Regions from separate parts of the Homo sapiens genome. Here region 2 is linked to region 1. Evidence: fine-mapped expression QTL. Tissue or cell type: whole blood. Region 1 holds a variant in brackets; the other region holds the start of a gene. All regions are shown on one strand. Distances are between the middles of the regions.

Region 1 (2,500 bases):
TTAAGATTAATATAAGACATAAAGAACTGTTGTATTTTTACAACTTTTCTGTAAACCTAAAACTAGGTCAAAGAAGTTAAATAAAGGCTCAGTTTATTAGGATCTTACTTCCTTTATACTAGTAAATGTGCTATGAAAGAAAAATAGCATTTTAGGTTTCCCATCTTTAGTTACCAAGTATATATATAATATACCTAACTTTGACTGCTTTGCTATAGTAATTATTTTTAATGCTAAAAAAGACAAAGCAAATTTCTAGAGAAATAAATCAATAAGCACTTTTTATTAACTTTTTTGACAAACCGATAGTAAAACATATGCTACCTAACGATAACTGTGTCCCTTTATGTATGAGTCTAAGAGAAATATTCGGATTTTTATCTGGACAAGAAATTCAAAGGCTCCTTAAGAAGAAAGTAAATACCATGGTCACTAATGTAACCAGACTAAATATAAAAGCTACATATGTATGTGTGTGTGTGTGTGTATAAATCAATGTTTTGATCAATGTAACTAATCTGAGGTTACAATAACTCACTGCTTCAAATAATATTTCAATTACATGTAACAGATTAAGATACTGTTTAGGGGAAAACAGCCTCAGAAGGAAGTATGAACAAAAAGGGATATTAATCATTACCTTTAATCAAACTAATTATCAACCTTTCCCCCAACCCATAAAGACTTCATGTCTCTAAATGGTTCCTAAATCATGGAAGATAACTTGAAAAATTTTAAATACATCTCCAGGTATCAGATGCTTATGTACTCCATGTGGGTCCAACTTTTACTGCCCAGAGTTTCTTGTCATGGTAATGTAACATCATGAAAGTCTGGTTGCCAGATCTTTATGTTTTTATTTGTAACAGAGCTAAACCTTTTAACAATTATATTAACTACAACTAAGTTATTTGCTAATGGTAGTAGAATGATACATATGTTTTATTCACGAAAATAGTACTTCTGCAAATTTTTCTTTGTAAGAATTCCATAAATACCAAGGAAAAGAAAAGACTCAAGGGGTTTGGGAAATAAACCCCTTTTAATTTTAAATCTACATAAGTTTAATTTATTCCCAAACTTTCTAAGTTCTTCCAGAGTTCTGGCCTTCAGAATATTTCCTAATTTTTCTTCTTGAGTTCTGCACTAACTCAAAACCTATCCAAACGATCTAATTCTGTATTACCTATATTTAATATAAAGTACAATATATAGTCAACATTGTATCACTAGAATTGTGAAGCTCTTCATGACTTTAAAAAAAAACTCCAAAACAATTAAGCTATTT[T/C]TATTTAACATGTAATAGTCATAAAGCAACTCCATATATTTAGTTTTCTGATATCCTAATGTATTTCCACAAACCTTTTAAGTCTACAATTTTATATAGTTTTCCATCAGGGAGGCAAGATATATATAATTTCTTTTTATATTTAACTAAAGGTTTTAAGAGGGCTTAGTCTCTAAATCAGTAACAATTAGTCATAACACCATACAAACACATTTAAATATTCAGGAAAGAGGTTGTTAAGATTATTGCTTAGTCTTATAAAATGGTGAATTTTAACCAAATTGATACCTCTGTAATCTTATTTATGTTTCCTATAACATCATACTGCTTGGCAAGTAATGTAAGTTTTGACATAATTTAAAAATTCAAGTAGTTGTAAACAAATTCTAATTTGTTAAACAATTCATATATTCCCCTTTAGTTACTATACTACCTCAGAATTAATCCTCCTTAAAAAAGTAATCATCCCACATAGAAAAAACTGCAGAGCTTCATCTCTTCCTTAAATATTTTCAAGTACTGTAAGAACACAAATCCATGAAAAAACTGATTAAAATTTGACATTTCATCTTGCTTTACTAATTATGGAATAATACAAAAACATAAAAAAAATGTTCCTTAATATTTCTTTGCTTAACAGAGAAATACAAAGAAATACTGCAATTATGGTTATGGGCTACTTTCCAGCCTCTTCAAGTATAGGACACAACTATGGTTCCTACCAGTAGGGAGAAATGAATAATCAATCTTACATAACACAAAAGAAAGATGAGAGGCACAAAAAGACAAACTGACTTTGGCTTTTAAGAACCTAATGTTAACCCTGAAATGCCACATTCAGTAACACAACAACAAAACAAAAGATTACAGCAGCAAGCCACCACTTCACACAGTATTAAAAATTCGGAAATAATGTAATAGCCTTCCTTCCATCTCCCACTCAATCTGTTGTGGCATCTTTTTGTTTTTCCTGCTTTTTAGCTGCAGGCAGTTCAAGGCTTGCCCACTGCATCGGTTCAGCTTTTCTCATAGTGATTTCAATCTTTGTTGCAGTCATAGTTACATAACTTCGCTTTACATCAATCACCTGTAACATATCAAAGAGAATTACAGGAAACCTCAGTAGTTTTATTAGTCTCAGAGGAAAACATCAGACTTGCTTATGCCAATAATCCCAAATCCAAGCTTCTAAAGGCCTCTTTTATATCTAGT
Region 2 (2,857 bases), 21 kb after region 1:
ATTCACACATGGATACAGACTTCCAACAAATGACTATCGCCCCTGAACTTTATTGTCTCATAAGCAAAGCGTCAGTCTTTCCCCTGTATTCTATATTAAAGTAGAATATCTGCAGACATAAGTGCAATTAATGTTTTACATAGGCTGCCAACACCAAAGGGCTTTAAAATCGTTTCTCGATTTTGTCATCGACTGAAATCTCACAATTTTCCTCATGAGTAGCATCATATTTGCATCATAAAAATGTCAGTGGCGGTAACTTGAGTATTGCATAGGTTGGATTTTCCTTTTCCTTAAAACTCTGTATCAATGGTCTTATTTTAAATAACGCTATCAATTTACCTGTGTGCCAAAAATAAGTATTTCAAACATCTCAGAGGTGAAGAGTTCAAAAGGCATCAGTTTTCATCTCCTCCACAATAATGAAGGATGTTATTAATACAACCTCATTGAACTGAGCTTCTCTATCAAATGGGTCTAATTAACATTACATGCGTCCCAGGGTGGTTATGAAGATTAAATAAGATAAAGCAATAATGGCTGGCATGCAGAAAATATAAACTAAATGCTAGTTCAATCTGAAAACGTGTTGTCACTTCTCACGATACGCAAGGAATCATCTCACTTCTTTGTCAATCAAAATTTCAATTCACTGATCATTTCCCGTCCTTCACCTAATAGTCATTTTCGCTTTGGATCCTTAACTCGACATCTAGGTGCTGTAGATGACATTCACTCATTTTATACGGGAGTAGGCATGGTAGTAAAACGTGGAGGCCACAAGAAGAACAAGCAACAAATGCCGCTAGTAATAAAAAGATAACTAACGTACCACCAGGATGAACCTATCAAAACAGCGTGAAGATACAGAGTAATGTCCCTTACCAAGAACACTTGTAAGAGGTTTGTAACAGCGGATCGACTGAACACAAACTTCTACAAGGCAGAGCTTACATGCTAGGACAACCCGCTGCTCATCCCGGCCACCTCTCCCTCTCGCGCAGGCAATCACAGCCATCACTACTTCGGGAACTACAAAGCAAGCTCACCAGTACCTCGTTAATTTTTGCTTCCCCAGAGACTGGAGGGCCAGAGGAGAAACGTGTTCGTTCTAAATTCCAGGCGACTTAAAAGGAGTGCGGGGACGACGGGGGAAACACGTGGATCCATGGGAGCGTCTCTCTCCGCAGTGGCAGAGGACAGTCAGGCGCCGGGGCCGGGCGCTCGCCAAGGGAACGCGGCGCAACAGAGGGGCGGCCGGCGGGCTGCGCGGGCAGCCAAGGGAGGCCCAGGAGGGGCATGGACCTGGGGCCGCGCGAGGACGGCTGCAGGAGATCCGCGGACACCCTCCGGCCCAAAGGGCCTCCCCTGCTGATGAGGTGGAGGGGAGGGAGGGCTGGCGGCGCGTTCCTCTTACCGTCGGAATTGGTCTCAGGATCGAAGCGCTGACCGCAGCCCCGGTTGTAGCACAGCAAGGCCATTTTCTTTTCCCACCGTCACAGGCAAGGCCCAAACACCGGGAACGGCAAGAGGATGCGTTTGCCACTCCCGTGTCGCTAGCACCGGTCTGACGACTGAGGCGGCTACCGGCTTCCGGAAACGATCCGTTGCGTTTCAGGAACCTTCGCGAATTTTCCGGTCGCGCAGGCGCAGAGGAGAAGGGACGAGGCGGAGGTAGCGGCGGGAGGCTGGCACTAGCCCGGGCCACGATAGGTCGGACTACAGCTGGTAGCAACTGGGGGTCGGAAGTGGAGCCCAGACAACAGCGGAGGAGAAATTTCCGGGGCAGAAAATGAAGGTGTCCGAGAGACTGACAATTCTCTTCTGACTTCCTCAGTGCTAACTGGCTTTGGGTATCTCCTGCAGCAAAGTGGCCGCCCCGCCCTCTCATCCCCTGCGACCCAGCACCCTTCTTCCTTGCCTTGAGGCTGCGCCTTAGACAGCCCGGTGGGTATCTGTTTACCCCTTAGCACTAAGGGATAAGTGCACAGTAAGTGCAGAATCATACAGTGTTTCCAAATCCTCAGGGTAGACGTGTGAGCTTAGTAAATGAGAGGAATAGCGGACGAACCTCTCCGTGTGTTTGTGTCTCGAGTGCCCTCATCTCAGGAGCAATTTTAATAACTTAACAGTTGCGGTCACATTACTTTGAAAATACAAAAAACGTAGAAATCAGAGTAGCAAAGAAAATTATGGATCTGATGCTGTGCCAGAATTGATCACAGTTGCTCTAAAGCCCTGGGGTAATAGTTAATATTTCATGTGAGCCTCCACTTAAACGATTTATCAATACTCAGTACACCACTCTTGGAACAGCTAGTAAAACTTCAGGTGCATTATAAAAAGTACAGTAATGCATTGGCTTCAACTTGCATATTTCCCAAACATGGGCGTTTGCAAGAAAAGCAAACACTTTTTGATAACATATACTGAAGGATCTTAAAATAAGATCAGCAGCTTATAAGTGAACCTAAAAATCTATACACTGTTTCCATTGATCTCAAGGTTATTTAGAGATCTGCTCACGTCCTCCTACCCCTAAAGACTTTTTAGTTTTTCATATTCTCTTTCTCTTCTTCTACCTAGAAGTATTAAATTTTCATATTGTGATCCACCATAGATAGGTATGTTTTCTTCATTTAACCTAACGTGAGTATTTTTCTATTTTGTTTCATAGTCATTGTTACAAATGACGGAGTATTCTGTTGAATAAATGCACTGTAATTTAACCTTTCTCTAATTTCCCCAACTTTATTATATATAAGTTACAGTGCTCAACCTGTGTATTGTTTTTCTTATTTCGAATTTCCCCCTTTAGGAAAATTTTTGGAAAGCGACAGTTCTGGGGTAAAGGGCA

The links. PIP is the estimated chance that this variant, and not a neighbour inherited with it, causes the effect.
Region 2: it holds the start of CHORDC1, and the variant in region 1 is fine-mapped to the expression of CHORDC1 in whole blood (TOPMed, PIP above 0.99).

Annotation. Positions count from the first base shown.
Region 1 is chr11:90,200,177-90,202,676 of GRCh38, forward strand. It overlaps CHORDC1 (cysteine and histidine rich domain containing 1), which reads right to left. Exons shown (of 11, transcript NM_012124.3): 11 at 253-2,375. The coding sequence ends at 2,229. Among named protein-coding and RNA genes, the nearest start is that of CHORDC1, 22 kb to the right of the region's middle. The variant T/C (reference allele first, on the strand shown) is at 1,289.
Region 2 is chr11:90,221,474-90,224,330 of GRCh38, forward strand. It overlaps CHORDC1 (cysteine and histidine rich domain containing 1), which reads right to left and starts at 1,576. Exons shown (of 11, transcript NM_012124.3): 1 at 1,418-1,576. The coding sequence starts at 1,481. It overlaps LOC124902812 (a long non-coding RNA gene), which reads left to right and starts at 1,686. Exons shown (of 2, transcript XR_007062978.1): 1 at 1,686-1,947.